Linked DNA regions of Homo sapiens. The protein of the gene in region 6 interacts with the protein of the main gene of each other region in a pairwise test. Each region holds a gene or a part of one and is shown on either strand. Other genes may lie near its edges. The genes, in order: SDHAF1, HELZ, SUCLG2, ETFA, GLRX5, HSCB and LYRM7.

Region 1 (2,868 bases), on a different chromosome or scaffold from region 6:
AGAATGTCTAGGGCAGGCCCATATGGGGACACCGGAGGGAGTATATCTGTGATCTATGGGGTTCATCTCCCCTCTCCTGCCCCAGGGCCTTGTCGTTCACTGTAGCTGAGGCTGGACCCTTCAGCCAGGTTTGAGAAATTTCCAGGTCTGAGACCCTCACTACTGCCTCAGGGGCTCCGAGCCAGTTCTCAGCTCCACCATTTCCTCTTCCACACAAAGATGTTAAATCACTTGCCCTCCATTAGGGAGCCAACTGGGGTATCTTTGGGGGTTAAGCCAGGATGAGCCCCCTCCACAGATCTGCCCAGGGGAGAAAACTATGCCGCTTCAATCAATGTGCCAGTCTACAGGGCTCCGGAAGGAGTCAGATCCCCACACCTATCACCTCCCAGATGGTCCCTTCCAGGTGTCTGTGTGCGTGTGTGTGTGGTGGCAGGGGGGCTGGGGGTGTTTCAAAAATCCTGAAATATATAAAAGCTTTAAGACCACCAACAGGGAAGTAGACATATCCCCAATTTTATTCCCTTTGTCCAACATTCCGAGAGGGAAGGGGCAAATGAGTCAATGTTGCCCCTCAAAACCATCAAGTAGGGGCCTTTGGGGGTCTTCAGTTGATCAACCAGGGTGATAGACCCCTACCCCTTCCTCATGGTCCTGGCTTGTCACAATTAATGGGGGAAAGTTTTCCAGAAGGGGATTCCGGGCTTCTCACCGCTCATCAGGGCACCTTCCCAAAACGTTCTCAGCAAAAAGTCTGCACTTCTCAGAGTTAAATACAGGAGAGGGGAGACTCCTTGAGGAGCCAGAAGTGGGTATGTTCTCAGGGGTCAAGAGAAGGGCGTCTCAGGCTCTCCCTGTCCACCGGGGGTCGTCCTGGCTCCCCGTACCTTCGGGCAAGTAGCTCTTGGCTTGACACTGTCCAGCCCGCCAGCGTCCCAGGCCGCCCCAAGCCCTCATGGGGGAGGAGCACCGACCTGTCTCCAAGCATCGGAAAAGGCGGGCCTCCCTTGCCGTCCATCACGGGGCTCTCTAGGCCCCCTGCGTCGCCAAGGAGGAGTCTCTGACATCCCCAATTCGTCAAGCTAGTCTCTTAAGACCTCTCACCTTAGGCGGGTTCCCCAGTCCCCCCATGCAGTCAGGCGAGCCTCCTGGCTCCACCACGCCATCGAGCGAGTTCGGCTCTTCGCCTGTCACCGTCCGTCGGGGCGGGTCTCCGGTGCCCCCGTGCTGTCGTGGGGGTTCCTTGGACTGTCGCCGTCGTCAGGCTGGCAACCCACGCCGCCAGGCTCCCCGGTCGGGGCCCGCGGGCGTACGAAGGCGCCCATGGCGGTGGCGTGGCCCGAGCGTAGCAGCTGCAGCTGGCGCCGCCCGCGGCGGTACAGGTACTCGATGCGCAGCACGTCGGACCGCGGCAGGCCCGCATGCTGCCGGAACTCTGCCCGCACTCGCGCCTCGGCGCCCGGCTTCCCACGCCCGGCGCGCAGCAGATCGCGGTACAGGCTCAGAACCTGCCTCTGCAGCCGGCTGTGCCGGCTCATGACCGCGGCTAAGCAGAGACGCTCAGCGAACGACCTGCGAACCGCGGAGCCGCCACACAGCCAGCAAAGGCCAAAGGGCAAAGCCACAGCCACTTCCGCCCAGCGCTTCCCTTGGCCTCCAACTCCCGCCTCCCGCCATCCGGCGCTGCCGCGTCTGACTGGCTGTCGTTGCAGTTACGTAACAGCCGGCTGGGAGAAGTGGGCGGAGTCGCTGGTCGCGGCCTCCCACGTAGGGGACGTGTGTTCTTGAGGGGACAGCAGTTCTGGGGATCCTGGCACCGCCTGGAGGGCGTTATGTGTTCGGACTCCTAGGTCTTGGGTTGGAGGGAACAGAGGGTCCTCACCTAACTCCTGCATTCTGGGAGAAGAGGAAGCTAGGGGTTTTTTTGTGTGTGACGGGGTCTCGCTGTCGCCCAGGCTGGAGTGCAGTGGCGCGATCTTGGCTCACTGCAGCCTCGAACTCCTGGGCCCAAGCGATCCTCCCACCTCAACTCCCCTAGTAGCTGGAACCACAGACGCGCGCAACCGCGCCCGCTATTTATTTATTTATTTATTTATTTATTTATTTATTTATTATTATTATTATTTGCAGAGATGGGTCTCCCTATGTTGCCCAGAATGGCTCGAACTCCTGGGCTCAAACGATTCTCAGCCTCCCAAAGTGTTGGGATTCCAGGCGTGAGCCACCGCGCCCGGCTACCGGTTCGGACTTTGGGTCCCAAGGGCACGGGGCACTGGGAGAGACGCCGGGCACAAGCGTGCTTTTGCCGTCAGTTACTGATTCAAACCATCTTGGGAAGCTCCGTGCGTTCCCTCGTCCGGGGCAGGTCTGTGTCTGGGGTCCCAGCCCTGGGCACGTGCAGAGGGACGAGACCCCGTAGGGAAATGGCTCTCGGCCGGTTGGACAGGCTTCTCGGGCCAGGGGAAGACAAGCAGAGAGAGTGTGGGCGCCAAGCCCCCAGAGGCAGCGTGTGGCTCTAGGAGCTGGGTTGGTCGCGCCCTCTGCGGGTGGGAGTCGGGGCAGTGGACAGCGGTGTTTGGGTCCTTACCGACTGTTAAAGCCCGGAGTCCGGGACACCCTGAACAGTCGACTAGACTGCAACCCCGTTGTCCTCCCAGGAGCTTTAGGTGGTAGGCCGCAATGCCGTTGTTGTCCCCGCGGGCCGCCTGGAGGTGTCCTCGTAGCGCTAGGGAGGCCCGCAAGGACACAGCATCCTCGGGCCCCACCAGCACCGGAGCTTGGGGGACCCCTCCACCCAGCGCGCAACCGCGGCTCTGCACACTTGGGCCGGCAACCAGCTGGGGGGTCCATTCCCCTTCAGAGAGGAGA
Region 2 (3,500 bases), on a different chromosome or scaffold from region 6:
TTCCTTTTGTGTATAAGCCAGAAATTATCCTAATCAAGGCTAATTATAAACATAATAGCTACTATTAACTAAACGTCTACTATGAGCCTGATGTCGTACGAGGCTTCAGGTTGTCACAATGATCTATGACAGGTATTACTAGCCCCATTTTACAGATGTTTCCCCGTGAAGCCCAGAGAAGTTAAGTACTCTGCCCAGGCTCACACAGGCAATAAGTCGAAAATCAGGATTCAAATCCTATTCTATTTGACTCTGATTTTTGTCCTCTGCTCTTCTCCAACAAGAAAAGTAACTCGTATCTGAGGCAGAAGTAGTCAAAGTACTTTTACTCTTCTCAAGCCTATGAAAGTACCCTGAGCTCCTTTTCATCACCACCTTTTCTAATTATCATGTTTTAATACTATCGTTCTTTTACATTTTACTGCAGACATTTAACATTTTATATTATTAATTAAATATTTTACTAACTAATAAGAATTCTTGACAGCACTTACAAACATTTCTATGGGTAAAGGAGTCTGAGTTATAAGCCACTAACCTACAAGCAAATTTCTAAAATACAACCCACATGTAAGCCAAGAACATCCTTTACAGTTATATTTGAGAGTAGGAAATGTATGTTGTTCTCTCTTTATGACTTAAATCTCTTTATGATTTAAAAAGGATGCTGCTTAGTGGTTCTCAAGGTCTGGTCTCTAAAAGCAACTTACTAGTTCAGGGGTAGGCAAACTACAACACGAAAGTCAAATGTAGCCATTGTTTTTGAAAATAAAGTTTTATTGGAACACAGTCACACCCATTTGCTTATGCATTGTCTATGGCTGCTTTCTCATTACGACGCAGAGCTGAGTAGTTGCAACAGAGATCACCTGCCCTGCAACACCTAAAATATTAACCGTCTGGCCCTCTGCAGAAAGAATTTGCCAAATACTATGCTAATATATATAAGCCAAATACTTTATTTTTATTTTATCAACTACCATATCTATTTAGCTATGGAAATTAATTTATTCTGATTCCAAAGAGTACTGAAAAGATGACAAAAATACATACTACAGAATAAAAACAAGTAAAAGGGATCAAAGTCAGTGGGAAATAAGGGTAAAGTGAAGTCTGGGTAATCTTAGCACACGTAGAAGAAGATGTCACCTAACTGTTAAATTTGGGCACCATCGTTGTTTCAACCTTACTAGCAGCTAAAGTAAAGAGGAAGACAGACCAATTTCACCTTTTCACTATGTGAAAAAAAATAAAATTCTAGCATTCGCTAATGAGAAAAACTACTTCTAGGTTCTCATGAATGGGACATTATGGTACATAGTAAAAAACGTCCTCCACAATATGGTTAGTTATAGTCAATACAAAAGCAAGTTTCACACAGCTCTGCTTTTTGAAGTGTTTGTTAAATAAAAAGTTTTTGTTAAATAGAATAGAACACCTATAAATCCAACCAAGAGCAAAGGAAATGTGGGCTAACATGTCCTTTCTTTGTCCTGTTGGATCTTGGCATAAAATTTAGATATAGGCAATAAATTGACAATGTACAAAGTAATTCCTTATGTCATGCTTACATGATGAAACCAGGGACCTCTTCCCAAAAACAAAGAGCAGATTTGATTAAAGGCACCCTTGGCCTCCTTAACACTAGTGGATGCACAAACTGATTTATGAAGGCTTATTATACTCAAGACTTTTCATTCAGAAACAATGTACTAACATCAGCAAAGTTAACTAGTCAATAGGACATGAAAATAAACATTGTAGGTATATACACAATTACCATTAAAATGATATTCTACCCAAACTAATATTGAAAGATATTACTGTGCTAAAACCATCTTACTGTGAAATGAAACTGGTAGACCAAAACAGGTCTGATCATCTACTCATACAAGTTTGGGGAACCTCAAAGTTCAAGCTTTACCTGGTGGCTCTGTGAAGAAATCAGGGCACAGTGTGAATCATTATAAGCCCATTACACAGTAAATGAGTCAATTAAGTTGGGATTTTTTTCTTTATTACTATTCTCTTCCTATCCATGGAATATATTCAGGGGCCAATACATATCTTTGAATGTTGCTTTTTAACACATTGTATCGGGGGAAAAAAGTCTAAATATTACCTTCTGTAGAAGCTGCATCAATCATTACTCTTTGCATGAGTACTGGTTCCAATCCAAAGTCGAAAACTATGGTTTGGCGAAAAGTTCCAAATATTTCTGTGTTAAATGCTATCCCGACTTTATACACGTAATGATCTAATCCATTTTGGGCCATCTTTCCTCCTATCCATTCTTGACAGTTTTCTGGGACTTCTTGTGATACCTGGGTAGTACTATCTCCGGCAGATATTGCAATGATACTAAAATGAGGACGATGAGCATCATAAAGCAATGCTACACGATACAGCATTCTTGCAGGCTACAAGGAAGTTAAAATAATTCATTGAGTACAAGGGGGTGAAAAATCCAATTGTAATTGGGCTCTTCAATGAAAATATTTCCATAAGGGACTTTTACTTCCCCAAGCTTCTAAGATACTATAGCCATTTAAGAAAAAAATCAGAATGGTTTTTTAAAATCAGTTGTTAAAATTATTTATTTATGCTATATCGCTAGCCTCCCTTCTCTTCCTGTGACATGTTCATTTTTCACTGTGGCAAAAGCTATCACCCTATATAACCATCAACCTTCAAACTTTCCATACTCTTCACCTACAGAAGTTTCATGTAGCCTCAAGTAGGAAGCCTTCGTAAGAGGGCAGTTACCTCTGAAAGCACTGGATTGGGTTCAAGGCTGAAGCTAACTGTTCTTAGATTTTTCATCTCCAGATACAGAAAGTACAGCAGAAGAAATGCCACAAAAAAGACAAAAACTTTTCCACTGAGCATACTCACAGAAACTTTTTACTTTGCTTCGATCTTAAACTTTGACTACTATAATTTAAGATGGGAAGCACTGCAGAAAATGCCCCATATTAAAAACCCATTATCACAGAATTTGTGACTTCATCATATCAAATATAAAAACAAGTTGTTATGGTTTAAAAATCTTAGAACTACTAGAATAAACAATTTTTAAGTAGTTAATTACAAGCCATGAACCCCATCCTATGTCCCAAGTTTAGAAGACAATATGTCAAAGATCTCTTTACCAAATAAATAAATATGAAAGCACCCTAAATATCTACAAAGATCTCATCTAAAAGTATTTTTAAAATTGTACTTTTAATGATCAAAGTACAGAAATATACTTTAGTACAATATAGAACCTATATATAATGTACTTAGATTAAAATATTTTCAATATTCTTTAACACAGAGATTCAAAGGTCAAAAAAACGTTCAGAAAATTAAACACAACTTTTATGCTTTAACTAGCACAAAATTCATACCTTACAAGTGAGAGCAAAGGTCCATGTCTGGTGGGATTTTTTGGTGCTGACAGTAACTGACAGGTCAGGATTGTGCTCTACCTTTACTCCTTCTATACATTCACTAAG
Region 3 (3,500 bases), on a different chromosome or scaffold from region 6:
CAACTTATTCAAAAGTCAACTCAAAATGGATCACAAACCTAAATATAAAACATAAAACTATAAAACATCTAGAAAAAAACATGAGAAAATTTTTATTATGTAGGGCAACGTAAAGAGGACTTAGACCTGATACTAAAAAGGTATAATCCATAAAGGAAATATTGACGTATTGGACTTCATCAAAATTAAACACTTTTGCCCTGCAAATGACCCTGTTGAAAAAATGAATATATACGTTATATAGTGTAACAGATAATACTTACAAAGCACATATCCAACAGTGGACTAGTACCTAGAATAACTCAAAACTCAATAGTAAAAACATAATCTAATTAGAAAATGGCCAAAAGAAATTTGCTTTGTCTCTTCATGCTGCTGTTACAAAATACCTGAGATTTGGTCATTTATAAAGGACAAAAATATATTGTTTCACAGTTCTGGAGGCTGGGAAGTCCAAGATCAGTGCACCGCCATTTAGTGATATGGCCTTTCTTGCTTCATCCTCACATGGCAGAAAGTGGAAATGCAAAACAGGTCTAAGCTAGTTCCCTTCAGCCCTTTTATAAAGCACTACCAGGGATGTCCAATATTTTGGCTTCCCTGGGCCACAATGGCATAAGAAGGATTGTCTTGGGCCGCACATAAAATACACTAACACTAACAATAGCTGAGCTAAGAAACTAAAATTGCAAAAAAAATCTCATAATGTTTAGAAAGGTTACAAATTTGTCTTGGGCCACTTTCAAAGCCATCCTGGGATGCCTGTGGCCTGTGGGCCGTGGGTTGGACAAGCCTGCACTAATCCATTCATGAGGGCAGAGCCTTCATGACTAATCACTTCCCAAAAGGCTCTGCCTCTTAATGCAAACCACAATGGGGATTAAATTTCAACATGCATTTTGGAGGGAGCATTCAGACCATAGCATCCATGAACAGACAATTCACCAACCACAATCTACAGATGGCAAATAAGCACATGAAAAGATGTTCAACATCTTTAGCCATTAGGGAAATGCAAATTAAAATCACAATGAAATATCACTACACACCCATAAGAATGGCTAAAATAATACCACCACCACCAAATGCGGGCTAGAATGTGGAGAACCCTGACCACTTACACATTGCTGATGGCAATGTAAAATGGAACAGCCATGCTGGAAAACATTCATCAGTTTCTTAAAAAAACTAATTATACAACTTCCACATAACCCAACAATTATCCCCCAAAATGAAGATTTATATTTATACCAAAAACCTGTTCATGAATGTCTAGAGTGGCTTTATTTGTAATAGCCAAAAACGAACCAACCCAGATGTCTTTCAACAGATGATGGTTAAACAAACTGTGGTAGGTACATCCATATCATAGATTGCTACATAGCAAGAAAAAGGACTGTAACGGGATTATTACACATTGTATGCCTATATCAAAACATCTCATGTACCTTATAAATATATACACCTACTATGTACCCACAAAAATTAACAAAAGAAAATGGAACTAAATACTGATAAATACAACAACTTAAGAGTTTTCCACAAAACTCTCCCTGAAAAGTAAAAACAGGATGTCACCACTGCAGTGTCCTGCAGCATGGTGCATTGGTAGAGACCACTGATCTGTGACGCTATGTCAACAGAGCAGACAGCTGCCACCCCAAAATGCAGGACCCTAATTCGCTGTTAGGACAGGATCTTCTAACCATGGATGCTTTTCAGGGCTGACACATGTGATCTGTGTAGTTGTAAAGGGATTTAATGTTTAGCTATAGCTGTCTTGAAATTTTAACACGGGTCCCTGCCTTTTTATTTGGCACTGGATTCTGCAACCCAGGTAGCTAGTTCTAGTGTCTGGATACACAAAAGGGATGGTGAAAGGTAGATTGGCAGGAGGGAGAGTTAGGTTCTGGTCTCAGCTCTACCACTCACAATTTCATGACTGAGGCAGGCCACTTTCCTCTGGGCTTTATTTTCTATGTGTGGATGAGGGGTGTGTGTCCACATGCTATACATACTTGGGTACTTCAGCTGACCTTCCTAATGCAATATACCCCCAGCAATAAAAATGGCTCAAAATTACAGTCATCCTAAAATAAGGAATGGGGCATTTAGAAAAACAACCACAATAGGTAATTCTGACAGACACGCCTGGGGTTGAGGGCCACTGTGTGGGAGCAGCGAATGTCCCTCACTGAGTATAAGGCTGTCACAGCAAGCGCTTCTCAACTAAATAGAATGCATCTGTGTTCTCAGAGGGAAAGCCATTGCTCGGTCACTCACCCTCACCCACTTTTTGCTAAATGCTAATGATAATAAATAATATTACTATCATAGAGCCCTTTTTATTTCTCCTCCAAGACATACTACTTACTAAACAGATTAGATGAGCTTTAAAAAATAAAATGGCACACTGCCAAAGAGCAGTACTTCATTAGATTCTGTCAAAAACTGAAGGATGGTTTTCTTTTCTATTTTTTAACACATATATAGAAAATGACCCAAAGTATCCATATTACCTTGTTAACTTTCACACCTTCTTTTGGAGTTTGTTTTGTCGCTAGATTGTACCCAATCATCTGTTTAGCCAGCTGTCCCACAACATTAGGGCTAAGAGAAAGAGAAAACAAGCAGAAAATGAATGTTTGTTGAAAATCATTTAAATGAGAGTCCTTACACAGAGCCTCATGTCTACACTGCAAAGGGTTCACCTTCACCCTCACAAAATCCATGAGTCTTTCTGCTTATGTGCTGCGTGTTTAGCACTGTACTAGAGGCTCACTGAGAGCAAAATAAAAGTGAGTTCATGAATGAATAAATGAAACAAAAGATGCTTTGTGACCTCTTCACCCAAAAAAGTTACAGTCATAGTAAAGAGAGAATGCTGAAATGCACACCAGATTCAGATAAGGGTTGACTGAAGATCCGACAGTGGAAAACTGGGGAGATATTGAACAATGAGAGGGAAAGGAAGAGGGTAAAGATCAAAGTAAATAGTAAAAAGGTGTGTGACAGGAACAGGGAGGAGAGGAAAGTGTTCAGTGCTAGGAGATGCAGGAGATGAAGTTGAAAAGACAGGCTCAAATAAAGGAAGGCTTGGACTATCAGAGGGGAGGTACCCCAGATGCCACTGGTAATGGGGAGTCCCTTCAGGTCCTTGAATAGAGGAGTGACATTATGGAAGTAGCATTTCAGTTGGAAGTGGTATCATTTCCAACATTTATGATGAATCATTGATTGTTTAGGACAGAAGGACTGTCAAGTTTTCACCAATTAGTAAGAAAAATCATTTTGTGGGGGCAGAAGGAAAACTAGGGCACTGCCAGAGCCCTCTACCTATGATTTCAGTTTCTTCTAGTTGCTTTGGCCCGCTCCTACCCCACCACAACCAACCTCAGTGTGCCTTTCAATCTTGAGCAAGATCTTCCATAACTGCTTGGCCAAAAGACAAGGAATAACAACCTCCAGACTTACTCTTTTGTTAAATGAACACCTCCTTT
Region 4 (3,500 bases), on a different chromosome or scaffold from region 6:
ACCCTGGTCCAAACTATGAGTATCTCCCACCTAGACGACTGATATAGCCTGCTAATTGATCTCCCCATTACTATACTTACCCCCTACAGCTTATTCACAAAACTGCAGCCAAAGTGATCCTTTAAAAATGTGTTAGATCATGTCATTCTTCTGCTCAAACCTTGAAATGGTTCCCCATTTCATTCAGAGAAAGAGCAATCTCTACAATGTCCTATAAGGCCCTATGTGATCTGGTCTTGTGTTGCCTCCCAATTTTATCTCTTGCTACTTTCTCTTTTGCACTTTCCATTCCAACACTGGCCTCCTTCCTATTCGTCAAATAGGCCAGATGTGTTCCTGCGTTAGACAGGCTCTGTGCACTTTACTAGTTGCTCTGGTCTGGAACACTCTCCCTCAGATCTCCTCATGGGTCGCTTCCTCACCTCCTTCAAACCTTTGTTCAGATGTCTTTTTTTTTTTTTTTTTTTTCAGACAGTGTCTCTGTCACCCAGGCCGGAGTACAGTGGCACAATCTTAGCTCACTGCAACCTCCACCTCATGGTTCAAGTGATCCTGCCGCCTCAGCCTCCTGAGTAGCTAGGACTACAGGTACGTGCCACCATACCCATCTAATTTTTGTATTTTTAGTAGAGGTGGGGTTTCACCATGTCGGCCAGGCTGGTCTTGAATTCCTGGCCTCAAGAAATCCGCCCACCTAGCTAATTTTTATATTTTTAGTAGAGGCGGGGTTTCACCACGTGGGCCAGACTGGTCTTGAACTCCTGGCCTCAAGTGATCCGCCCGCCTTGGCCTCCCAAAGTGCTGGGATTCCAGGCATGAGCCACCACACCCAGCCAGATGTCTCTTTCTCATTAAGGCCAAATCTGGCTATCTTATTTTAAACTTCAATCTTTCCCTTCAATTCTCCACCCCCCATAACCCATCCTATTAGTCTCCCTAACACTTACGACTCTCTAACATTTTTTTTTTTTTTTGAGACAGAGTCTCGCCCTGTTGCCCAGGCTAGGGTGCAGTGACATGATTTCTGCTCACTGCAACCTCTGCCTCCCAGGTTCAAGCGTTTCTCCTGCCTTAGCCTCCCAAGTAGCTGGGACTATAGGCACGTATCACTGCGCCCAGCTAATTTTTGTATTTTTTAGTAGAGACGGGGTTTCCCCATGTTGGCCAGGCTGGTCTCAAACTCCTGACCTCAGGTGATTACAGGCGTAAGCCACCACGCCTGGCCCATATTATATTATTTACTAATCTATGGTGTTAAGTGTCTGTAGTAGGCAAGAAAATGGCCCCTCCAATGATATATTCACATCCTAATACCCAGAACCTGTGAATATTACCTACGTGGCAGCAGATATATATAAAGCTAAGGATCTTGAGAGGGAGTTTATCCTGGATTATCTACATGGGCCCTAAATGCCATTACACGTATCCTTTTTTTTTTTTTTTTTTTTTTTCCAGACGGCATCTCACTCTGTTACCCAGGCTGGAGTACAGTGGCACAGTCTCAGCTTACTGCAACCTCCGCCTTCTAGGTTCAAGGAATTCTCCTGCCTCAGCCTCACAAGTAGCTGGGATTACAGGTGTGCACCACCACATCAAACTAATTTTTATATTTTTGGTACAGATGGGGTTTCACCACGTTGGCCAGGCTAGTCTCAAACTCCGGACCTCAGGTGATCCGCCCACCCTGGCCTCCCAAAGTGCTGGCATTACAGGTATGAGCCACCACGCCTGCCATGTATCCTTATAAGAGGGACACAGAAGGAGACTGAATGCAGTCCCACAGAGAAGATGATATGAAGACAGAGGCAGAGGTTGTAGTGATGTGGCCACAAGCCCAGGGATATCAGAGTAGCCACCAGAAGCTGGAAGAGGAAAATAACAGATTATCTCCTAGAGCCCCCAGAGGGAGTATGGCCCCTGCTAACACTTCAACACATCTCTGGCCTCCAAAGCTGTGAGAGAAAAACTTTGTTGCTTTAAGCCACCAAGTTTGTAGTAACTTATTACTGTAGCCAAAATAAACTAATAGCACCTAAAATAGTACCTGGAATATGGCAGACACTTGATAAATACTTGTTCAAAGAAAGAAGGAATGAAAATAAACCCTGAAATACTACCATCTGATTATACAGTGTCAATATAATGCCTTTATTCTGACAAAACTATTACTGTTTCTATGGGTACACGTGTTATGTAATAGAAATTTCGCACAGGAAAACCACAGAAAGTTACAGGAAAACCCTCGAAAGTTATATGTTAAAGTCTTAAAAGGAGGGTGAGATGACAGAATTGGGACATTTTAATATATATTCATTGTAGTGATTGTGTAATTCAAAAATAATCAAATGTCTTTAAAAAGATTTTTTTTCAAAACAGGGTCTCAATTAGGTTGCCTAGGCTGGTCTCAAATTCCTAGGTTCAAGCAATCCTCCTAACTCAGCCTCCCAAGTAACTGGGATTACAGACACATGCTACTGTGCCTGGCTTAAATTTTTTTGGTTTTTCAAAAAACATCACTCCCTTCTCATCAATGTACTTTTAGCAATAGGTTCTACCTTACCTATAAATGGTTAACTACAATTCTATATTTTTAACTACAAACTTAAAAACTTTAAATGTATTTCTATTTGTATAAGAGTTATATTAAGACCACCAAAAAAAAGATGAAAAACCAGGGTATTCCTGAATCTGAAGTAGGCACTGAAACTAACATTTCATTATTTTGTCTTTTATTATTTTTGAGACAGGGTCTCACTCTGTTGCCCAGACTGGAATGCAGTGGCACGACCACAGTGCACTGTCGCCTCCACCTCTCAAGCTCAAGCAATCCTCCCACCTCAGCCTCCTGAGTACCTGGGACTACAAGCACACACCAATATGCCTGGCTAATTTTTAAACGTTTTGTAGAGATGGGGTCTCACTACATTGCTAGGGCTGGTCTCAAATTCCTGGGCTCAAGCAGTCCTCCTGCCTCAGCAACCTAAAGTGCTAGGATTACAGGTGTGTGTCACTGCGCCTGGCCCATTTCATTATTTTTAAAGTGAAGAAAAAAGAAAACCTACTAAGATTAGGCAAAGGTAAGAGATACTAGGAGGCCTTCTCCTCACTGAATGCTATATACCATTTACTTGGAGGCTTAAGAAAAACTGGTTCAGAGAGAAAAACTGAAAAATCCGGAAAAGTAAAATAATTTGTAGGGCTGAAAGACTTACACAAAAATGAAATAATGAAGAAAAAATATTTCCAACAAAAAGGGAATATCTTTCTACTAAGGAAAATAACTTTACCTGCAGCATGTAGTTGATCTGCCAAGTCATATAACAACTTAAAGTTCTCTCCACTCTTCAAGCCTCGACCTCATTTAAAAAGATGAAAAAAAAAAATTAGGCAAACATCAAATACATTCTGGAACAATTTTGCTATTTTATATACTGGAGTAAATTTTCATATTATGTAACTGCCATATTAAGCATGTCACCTCCTCTATAAACCTTTTCTGG
Region 5 (3,500 bases), on a different chromosome or scaffold from region 6:
GGGATGCAGAACTCATGGAAAGGTCTTATAAAGACACCAGACACTGGGAGAATCTCTGCCACAATTCCAAATTATGTCCTCTTTTAGAAAGTCCCCACTTTTTAAGAAGTAAAATACTCATTAAATCCCCTAGCTCGGTGGACTGTTGACGATGTCTCCCTATCTAACTGTAGCAGTGTGCCAAGCACAGGGCTCCAGAGATAGGCAGGTGGGGCCGCCTCCTCCGGCCTCACCCACCTCTGCTCCCTCCAGCCCACCCACGCCTCCAGCTGCACAGTTGACTCACCATCCAAACAGCTGCTTCCCCCAGAAAGTAGACCAGGGCTCGACGGCAATTCTTGTGGCAAATTTAATAGAAGAATATGAGACTCACCCTTACTTCCCACACATAAAACACTGCAGGCACTCCAAATCCTTACAGACATATGCACTTCGGAATCAACTCAGGCATGCACAGCATCCCTGTGCTGGAGTTTATTTTAAAAAACAACGCCCCAGTTATCACAGTTTCTTTTTTTGTTCACCATTTTCCATAACAAAAGAAGCTACACAAAATTTGGGGGGAGATACTCTCTTTGGAGACTGACACATTTGCAGAGGGGTCATGAATAATGATTCCAAAGCTCCTATTTAACTTCTGAATCAGGCAAAGAATAAGTGACAATATAAGAATGAATTTTGTTTACAGCAATATCATAATACAGCATTGAATCATTACAGTGCAGTGGTTGTAATTAAGTCCACAATAAAATATTCTTAGCCCGAACACCAGACCAACTAAAATCACCAACTGCTCACGAACCAAAATGATCAGTGCAAGCAGTTGCGGTCTCAATAGTGAAAACCAAAATGGGTAAGGCTTTTCTGGCAGTGAGTCTCTGACATGAACGGCTCCCTCTCTGCTCAGCGAGGACTTGGCCGCCCTCACTTGGAGTCTTGGTCTTTCTTTTCATCTAAAAGGGCGGAGTGGATCCCCAGCTTTTTCAGTTCTTCCACCAAGTCCCCATTCTGGTGCATCTGCAGAAGAATGTCACAGCCCCCTACAAACTCGCCATTGAGGTACACTTGCGGGATGGTGGGCCAGTTGGAATAGTCTTTAATGCCTATGGAGAAAGAACATTTATTTGTTATTTAAATGGTAAAAGCTGAACCATTCATGACTAAATATGTAATTTTGACCCACTAGTAGCAGACAACCCACTGTCCCTCCCTGGCTTCCCCCAATCTTGAGAACACTGTGCTTGCCACTAAGAGCATGAGTTTTTGTGTCAAAGAGACCAGTGGTTAGGCCCTGACTCTTCCAATTACAAACCGTCAGCCCTCAGACAAGTCACCTGACCTCTCATCCTGTTTCCACCCTCATCTCCCAAGGTTTTTTTTTTTGTGAGAATTAGGTAAGCAAGATTCTCAGTAAAATACCTGATACATTGCGGACCTTAGATTAATGGCAGAGGACTGGACTGGGTAATGCAAGTCACATAAGATACATAAGGCCAAAATTCTCCATCTACCAGTCAAGCTTCAAGCGAAACAAAACTTGAAGAAATGTCACAACCAACTTCATTTCCAAATGGATCCATCACGGTAATTCATGGCCAACTCGGGCAATCCCACCTGTGCACTTTTCATGACTGTGACTGTCTAAGTTGGTGCAGGCCGTCAGTCACTTCTCCTCGAGATGATGAGTTGTTGAGTTTTTTTTTTTTTTAATTTTTAACAATTACTTTTACCCAGGGAAAAATCCCTGTCCCACAGCTATGGGTTGTCAGTTCCCATCTATCCAGCCACTGTGATGGGCTCTCTGTGGAGTGGATGATGAGGCTCTGTGCAGAACCCGAAGTGACTGGTGAGTCTAATGAAGGCCCAGAGCTCAGCAAGGTCCCTGTCCAGGGCTGAGGGGTGGGGGAGTGAGACCCGCTCTGCTCTTAAGCGCTCACAGCAGCCAAGAAACCAACCAGCATGCATGTGATCAGTCCTGTGTGCAAATGGCTCTGAGGACACACATGAGATGAGGGACACTCTGTGACAGCGCAGCTGTGCAACTACTCTGTTCAATTCTGAGCCACAAGGATGATGACTGTAACAAAATGGTAAGAAAGAAATGTGGCTTCAATCTTAAGACATAAAAGATTACTCTTAACATTCCTCTTCATCAGTCTACTTCCTTTTCTACTTGTATGTTGAGATGACTGTGCTTTCAAAAACATAGTCGGCCATTAAAAAGCCTGTATTGGTCATGTTAAAAACGAAGATGGTCAAAGCATGGCATATAATAACTAACACTTATGTGACACTTTTATATTTACATAGATAGATATTTTTAAATGGCCAAAATGAGCATATGGATAAACAAAACGGAAAAGTCAACAGATTGTTCAAGTCCAGTACAGTTTACACAAATCGATTTTTATGTAAACAAACTAAAAATACAAAAACTTGCTCTTGATACCCTATAATTTATTATCAAACATTTTCCAAATAAAATTACTGATTTCAGTTATATCACAAGTCCCAATATACTATTTATTTTTTTCTTAAAAGTTATTGCCTTATTAAAAAAACTGACTTTGCTCTAAATGACAGCCCTAAAGAAAGCCCCTGAACCAAGGGCTTTATCTTCCTTCTCCAGACTTCACATATTAAGAAAGGGTTACATTGCTCTAGGCCTCCAAAAGGACACCTCTCAGCCACTCTGGGTGCTAGTAAAGAAACAACAGCTAGCTCTTTGGCAGCTGCCAATAAAGGGTAAATTCCATTAATCATCAAAATGTCTTTATAATGCCAAATATCTAGACATAGTAGAATACCCTGATGAATTCAAGTTGTTCATCATGGTGATGTTTGATGCTCCATCAACAAAAACAACTAGCATAATTTGTGTGTTTTTTTACTTTCTTCAAACTCTGTCCTCAAATACAAAGTCTATCAAAACTCACTTTTTACAATGATGCCGATTACAAAACTTTTACCTTTATGATGACTGAGAGCTGGGTGCGAGAATTAAGAAATATTTAAAGTAAACGTGAGCTTCTTTTCATTATCTTCAACTTTCTTAAATACCTTTTATACAAATGAATCATTTATGTGCATGAACGACCTGTTTTGTTTCAATGAATAATATATTGTGTGAAGCTTTCCATGATAATCAATTTTTACTGATTTATTTTGATGGATGTCTATAATTTCTGAAACACACCAAAAATGGAAATGTTTGCTGCCTGAGAACTACCCAAAACTACATGTTTTACCCAAAAAATACATGTTTTTAAAGTAAAATTGCTTTTCATCAATCACTTTTATAGTATCACACTCAATCGAAGCATTGGGCTTGCCTCATTGATTAAACTTTATGTTGCTGTTGATCATATGTCCTGACTACGAGAGAAGGGGAGACCCCCAGAATCCTTACCACCAAAATTATCAAAACAAGCAGGCTTTCAGACATTCTCAACACCCAACACACACAGCCACATGCAAGTGATACTAACTTCTCATGAGCC
Region 6 (2,986 bases):
CAGGAGTTCAAGACCAGCCTGGCCAACATGGTGAAATCCCATCTCTACTAAAAATACAAAAATTAGCCGGGTGTGGTGGCAGGCTCCTGTAATCACAGCTACTTGGGAGGCTGAGGCAGGAGAATCACTTGAAACCGAAAGGCTGAGGTTGCAGTGAGCTGAGATCATGCCACAGTACTCTAGCCTGGGCGAAAGAGCAAAACTCAGTCTCAAAAAAAAAAAAAATTAAGTTGGTAACACATGACATAAAATTCATCATGTTAGCCATTTCTAAGTGTACAGTTCAATGACATTAAGTACATTCACATTGTTGGGCAAGCATCACCACCATCCATCCACATAACTTTTTTTTTTTGAGATAGAGTCTTGCTTTGTTGCCCAGGCTGGAATGCAGTGGCATGATCTTGGCTCACTGCAGCCTCCACCTCCCGGGTTCAAGTGATTCTTGTGCCTCAGACTCCCAAGTAGCTGGGATTACAGGCATGCATCATCACACCTGGCTAATTTTTGTATTTGCAGTAAAGACGGGGTTTCACCATGTTGGTCAGGCTGGTCTCAAATTCCTGCCCTGAGATGATCTGTCTGCCTCAGTCTCTCAAAGTGCTGGGATTACAGGTGGGAGCCACCGTGCCTGACCTTCCACAGAACTCTTTTCATCTTGCAAAACTGAAGCTCTCTACTTATGAAATAACTCTCTATTTTCCTCTTCCTGACTCTATCCCCCCACAACCACCATTCCACTTTCTCTATGAATCTGACTACCACAGGTACCTCATATAAGTGGAATTATATAGTATTTGTCCTTTTGTGACTGACATTTCACATAGTACAATGTCCTCAAGGTTCATCCATGTTGGAGCCTGTGTCAGATTTTTTTTTGTTTGTTTGTTTTTGAGATGGAGTTTCGCTCTTGTTGCCGTCAGGAGTGCAGTGACACGATCTCGGCTCACTGCAAACTCCACCTTCCAATTTCAAGCGATACTCCTGCCTCAGCCTCCTGAGTAGCTGGGATTACAGGCATCTGCCACCACACCCAGCTAATTTTTCAGAGACGGGGTTTCACCATGTTGGCCAGGCTGGTCTAGAACTCTTGACCTTGTGATCTGCCGACCTTGGCCTCCCAAACTGCTAGGATTACAGGCGTGAGCCACCGCGCCCGGTCCTGTGTCAGAATTTCTTTTTTTTTTGAGATGGAGTCTCCCTGTGTCACCCAGGCCGAAGTGCAGTGAGGTGGTCTCCACTCACTGCAAGCTCCACCTCCCAGGTTCACGCCATTCTCCTGCCTCAGCCTCCTGAGTAGCTGGGACTACAGGTGCCCGCCACCACGCCTGGCTGATTTTTTGTATATTTAGTAGAGACGGGGTTTCACCGTGTTAGCTAGGATGGTCTCGATCTCCTCACCTCATGACCCACCCGCCTCAGCCTCCCAAAGTGCTGGGATTACAGGCGTGAGCCACCGTGCCCGGCTGGTGTCAGAATTTCTATCCTTTTTTTTTGAGTTGGAGTTTTTCTCTTGTCGCCCAGGCTGGAGTGCAATGGTGCGATCTCAGCTCACTGCAACATCTGTCTCCCGGGTTCAAGCGATCTTCCTGCCTCAGCCTCCTGAGTAGCTGGGATTACAGGCGCCCGCCACCATGCCACCCTAATTTTTTTGTATTTTTAGTAGAGATGGGGTTTTACCATGTTGGCCAGGCAGGTCTCGAACTCCGGACCTCAAATGATCCGCCCGCCTCAGCCTCCCAAAGTGCTGGGATTACAGATGTGAGCCACCACGCCCGGTCTAATGTTGCTTTTATTATTTTGAAAACACTTTGTTAGATCAATTTAAAAAATAAGTTTTAATTTTGCATTTACTTATTCCTTTCTCCAATGGTCTTCCTTTCGTTATGTAGACCCAAGTTTCCGACCTATATAAATTTCCTCCACTCTAAATAATTTTTTTTTTTGAGATGGCATCTCATTCTGTCACCCAGGTTGGAGTGCATTGGCGTGATCTCGGCTCACTGCAACCTCCGACTTCCGGGATCAAGCCATTCTCCTGCCTCAGCCTTCGGAGTAGCTGGGATTACAGGCGAGCGCCACCATGCCTGGCTACTTTTTGTATTTTTAGTAGAGACGGGGTTCCACCATGTTTGTCAGGCTGGTCTCGAACTCCTGACCTTGTGATCCGCCCACCTTGGCCTCTCAAAATGTGGGGATTACAGGCGTGAGCCACCACGCCTAGCCAATCAATTCTTTTAACATTTTTTTTACGTGGCAGGTCTCCTGTCAACAAATTTTTTTTTTTTTTTGAGATGGAGTCTCGCTCTGTTGCACAGGCTGGAGTGCAGTGGCGCGATCTCTGCTCACTGCAAGCTCCGCCTCCCGGGTTCACGCCATTCTCCTGCCTCAGCCTCCCGAGTAGCTGGGACTACAGACGGTCACCACCAGGCCTGGCTAATTTTTTGTATTTTTAGTAGAGACAGGGTTTCACTGTGTTAGCCAGGATATTCTCAATCTCCTGACCTTGTGATCCGCCAGCCTCAGCCTCTCAAAGTGCTGGGGTTACAGGCATCATTAACCATGCCCGGCCCAATTTTTTTTTTTTTTTTTTTTGAGACAAAGTCTTGCTCTGTCACCAGGCTGGAGTGCAGTGGCGTGATCTTGGCTTACTGCAGCCTCCGCCTCCCAGGTTCAAACGATTCTCCTGCCTCAGCCTCCCTAGTAGCTGGGATTACAGGCGCGCCACTGCGCCTGGCTAATTTTGTATTTTTAGTAGAGATGGGGTTTCACCATGTTGGCCAGGATGGTCTTGATCTCTTGATCCACCCGCCTCGGCCTCCCAAAGTGTTGGGATTACAAGTGTGAGCCACCGCGCCCAGCCCAAATTCCTTCAATTTTTATTTGCCTGAGAATAGCTTCATTCCTCCTTCAGGTTTTTTTTTTGTTTGTTTTGAGAGGGAGTCTCGCTTTGTTGCCCAGGCTGGAGTGCAGTGGCGTGATCTTG
Region 7 (3,500 bases), on a different chromosome or scaffold from region 6:
AAACATCATGGACATGAAAGACGAAGAAAGACTGAAGGACTGCTCTAGATTAAGGATACCTAAAGAGACATGATGACTACATGCAATGTGTGATCCCCAATAGGATACTGGTCCACAGGGAATTTTTTTTCCTTTTGCCATAAAATACATTATTAGGACAAATGGAAAGATTAAATGATAGCATTGCATCAATATTAATACCCTGGTTTTGGTCATTATATTGCAGTTACATTAGAGAATGTCCTTGTATATTTAGGAAATACACACTGAAGTATCTTAAAAAAATATACTCTAAGGTATTTCTCCAGGAGATCTAGACCCAAATGGGCTGTCATAATTCTAAAAATGTTCATTTGGGGTAAATAGGCATTATGTCTGCAACTTACTCTCAGAAAGTTCAGGAAAAAAAAATGAGGGAAACACAATAAGGCAAATATGGTAAAATGTTAGCATTTGTAGAATCTGGGTAAAGGAAATTCTCATACCCTTCAACTTTTGCACTTTTTTTGTAAATCTGAATTATTTCAAAATAAAAAGGTTTTAAAAATATATATATTTACACACACACACACACACACACACACACACACACACACAGTGGCCAGATGCAGCGGCTCATGCCTGTAATTCTGGCACTTTGGGAAGCTGAGGTGGGAAGATTGCTTGAGGCCAGGAGTTTGAGACCAGCTTGGGAAACACAGCGAGACTCTGTCTCTACAAAAAATTGTTTAAAAATTAGCTAGGCATGGTGGTGCACACCTGTATTCCTAGCTACTCAAGAGGCTGAGGCAGGAGGATTGCTTGAGCCCAGGAGTTTGAGATTACAGTGAGCAATAATTATGCTACTGCACTCCAGCCTGGGAGACAGACTCTCTCTCTCAAAAAAAAAAAAAAAAAAAAAAGACAGAAGACAACACTAAAACAAATTCAACCCAAAAGGCAAACTGAATATTTCACTTAATTAAGAAAGAACTGGTCTGACTAAGAATAGTGCTCTTATTAGCCAGATGATAAATTTGGCTTACTGAAATGAAAACCAGTTAAATAAGTATTATTTAACCATTGTTTATATCTCACTTGCTTTTACCAAACCTATGGAGATTTCATCAGAGAATAAATTGTAGTGTGCATTTTAACTTGTTAACAATGGCAATAATTTGTTTCACTTATCAAACCTATATGTGCCTATTTCATGCTAGACATTACATCAAGAAATTAAGATATGAAGGTGAATATATAATAGTCTCTTCAGCTTCCAGAAACTCACAATCTAATGGAAAAGATAGCTAGATAAACAACAAATTATAGTATAATGTCATGTGTTACAAAAGTGGAACAAGACTTTTATGGGAGAATGGAAAAATAAATGGTTAAATATACCCATATCACTTTAGAGTATGTTCAGTTCTGAATAACCAAAGTCCAAAAGCTGGTTTAAATAAGTAAGAGATTTAATTTTTCTCACATTATCAATAAATACAGATTAAAGGACAGGCATGGTGGCTCATGCTTGTAATCACAGCACTTTGGGAGGCCGAGGTGGGCGGATCACAAAGTCAGGAGTTCGAGACCAGCCTGGCCAACACAGTGAAACCCTGTCTCTACTAAAAATACAAAAATTAGCTGGGCGTGGTGGCAGGCACCAGCTACCAGGGAGGCTGAGGCAGGAGAATCGCTTGAACCCAAAGGCAGAGGTTGCAGTGAGCCGAGATCGTGCCACTGTACTTCAGCCTGGGCGACAGAGCTAGACTCCATCTCGGAAAAAAAAAAAAAGAAATACAGATTAAGGCAGTTCTGGGCTAGTGCTTGTCCTTAGTGATACTAAGGACCCAGGCTCTTTCTCTCTTCCTGTTCTGCTACCTTCCATGAGTGGTTTTGTCTTCACTGCTGCTTGTCATATCACATCTGCACTCCAGATGGGAAGAAGAGAGAAAAGGGCAAAAGGAGAGTGCCAGCTCAGCCTGCTCCTTTTAAACAGGAAAACAATGACTTTCTTGGAAGTAACACCGAATAGACACGGTTTATATAGACCAGAAAGGTGTCACATGGTCTGGAAAATAACTTTTTTTTTGCTTGGTACATTGCACCCTGAACACAATTTCTCAGTTAGTAAAAAAGAACAGGAGAAGCCAAGCACGGTGGTTCACACCTATACTCCTAGTACTTTAGGAGGCCGAGGTGGTTGGATTGCCCGAGCGGTAGTCCCAGCTATTCAGGAGGTGTGAGGCATGAGAATCGCTTGAACCCGGGAGGCTGAGGTTGCAGTGAGCCAAGATCGTGCCACTGCACTCCAGCCTGAGCGACAGAAGGACACTCTATCTCCAAAAAAAAAAAAAAAAAAGAACAGGAGAATAGATACTGGAGAGGCAACAAGCACAACCCCTTTGGCTATGCAAAATGCATATAAATCCTTCTTTCCATCTGTAGCATACATCCACTCACTACCTGTCCCCTCAGGTCTCATCTAGACTGAAATCAAGGATGTTTGGTTACAGTGCTAGTGTTTCCATTAGGTCCTGCTGAGCCTCATTGTTCTAAGGTGGAGATACTGGGGAAGATGCCCTTCTTTGGGGCTTTAAAAGCTTTCATAGTCTACTTCCTGGTGATAGGAGTTTAGGGGCCCAGGGGTGGCCTTAAGAGGTGAAAAGAGCTAGCCAGGCCTGGAGTTTCTTGGCAATACAATTCACTCAAAAACTTTATAAGCTTCAAATTGGTTTCCAGTCATTTCCATGCACAAGTAGCCACAGAAAAATAAGGATGAAGACTGTCATCCTTTGGTAGCAGCCTCTACGTTCTGCCCATCTCCTTAACCCTTACCTTAGGGGCCACTTCTTAAAGCAATGAAGAATAGTAAGTTCCAGTCAGTAAATGAATCATATATCTAATCTTTGTCTGGAAGAATGAGAAAGTCTTGAGGCATCGATCTTATTTCATGTTACAGCTCAGAATTTCCCTGCTTGTACTGGCTTTAGTTTTAGTGGATAAGAACAATTAGCATTTTTAACTCTCCAAGGCTCTAAATTATGGGACTCTTAATCAATTAGACTCTAGGCTGTAGACAGAATTGTGCCTTTTAGCAAAGTAATACTTTTTTCTATCTCTGCTTTGTGGGCTAGCTTAATCTGCATTCAACCTCTTTTTCAATTTTATTTATCATTATTATTATTTTTTGAGACAGAACCTTGCTCTGTCTGTCGCCCAGGCTGGAGTGCAGTGGCTGTGATCTCGGCTCACTGCAACCTCTGCCTCCCATGTTCAAGCAATTCTCCTGCCTCAGCCTCCCGAGTAGCTGGGATTACAGGCGCCCACCACCATGCCTGGCTAATTTTTATATTTTTCAGTAGAGACGGGGTTTCACCATGTTGGCCAGGGGGCTGGTCTCAAACTCCTGACCTCAGGTGATCTGCCCACCTCAGCCTCCCAAAGTGCCGGGATAACAGGTGTGAGCCAGCGATCCCGGCCAATTTTATTTTGCCTAACTCATATCACCAGGAAGTGGA

Evidence for each region.
Region 1: the proteins of HSCB (region 6) and SDHAF1 interact in binary tests that used the Homo sapiens proteins (3 or more experiments, as listed by UniProt).
Region 2: the proteins of HSCB (region 6) and HELZ interact in binary tests that used the Homo sapiens proteins (3 or more experiments, as listed by UniProt).
Region 3: the proteins of HSCB (region 6) and SUCLG2 interact in binary tests that used the Homo sapiens proteins (3 or more experiments, as listed by UniProt).
Region 4: the proteins of HSCB (region 6) and ETFA interact in binary tests that used the Homo sapiens proteins (3 or more experiments, as listed by UniProt).
Region 5: the proteins of HSCB (region 6) and GLRX5 interact in binary tests that used the Homo sapiens proteins (3 or more experiments, as listed by UniProt).
Region 7: the proteins of HSCB (region 6) and LYRM7 interact in binary tests that used the Homo sapiens proteins (3 or more experiments, as listed by UniProt).

What each region holds. Positions count from the first base shown.
Region 1 is NC_000019.10:35,993,945-35,996,812, reverse strand, and holds SDHAF1 (succinate dehydrogenase assembly factor 1, mitochondrial), read right to left. Parts: upstream 1,626-2,868; 5' UTR 1,539-1,625; coding exon 1,191-1,538; 3' UTR 501-1,190; downstream 1-500.
Region 2 is NC_000017.11:67,186,197-67,189,696, forward strand, and holds part of HELZ (probable helicase with zinc finger domain), read right to left. Parts: coding exon 3,393-3,500; intron 2,421-3,392; coding exon 2,123-2,420; intron 1-2,122. UniProt on the Homo sapiens protein: May act as a helicase that plays a role in RNA metabolism in multiple tissues and organs within the developing embryo.
Region 3 is NC_000003.12:67,525,613-67,529,112, forward strand, and holds part of SUCLG2 (succinate--CoA ligase [GDP-forming] subunit beta, mitochondrial isoform 2 precursor), read right to left. Parts: coding exon 3,475-3,500; intron 2,611-3,474; coding exon 2,520-2,610; intron 1-2,519. UniProt on the Homo sapiens protein: GTP-specific succinyl-CoA synthetase functions in the citric acid cycle (TCA), coupling the hydrolysis of succinyl-CoA to the synthesis of GTP and thus represents the only step of substrate-level phosphorylation in the TCA.
Region 4 is NC_000015.10:76,280,470-76,283,969, forward strand, and holds part of ETFA (electron transfer flavoprotein subunit alpha, mitochondrial), read right to left. Parts: intron 3,357-3,500; coding exon 3,288-3,356; intron 1-3,287. UniProt on the Homo sapiens protein: Heterodimeric electron transfer flavoprotein that accepts electrons from several mitochondrial dehydrogenases, including acyl-CoA dehydrogenases, glutaryl-CoA and sarcosine dehydrogenase.
Region 5 is NC_000014.9:95,541,550-95,545,049, reverse strand, and holds the end of GLRX5 (glutaredoxin-related protein 5, mitochondrial precursor), read right to left. Parts: intron 1,104-3,500; coding exon 925-1,103; 3' UTR 336-924; downstream 1-335.
Region 6 is NC_000022.11:28,752,039-28,755,024, reverse strand, and holds part of HSCB (iron-sulfur cluster co-chaperone protein HscB isoform 1 precursor), read right to left. Parts: intron 1-2,986.
Region 7 is NC_000005.10:131,194,944-131,198,443, reverse strand, and holds part of LYRM7 (complex III assembly factor LYRM7), read right to left. Parts: intron 1-3,500.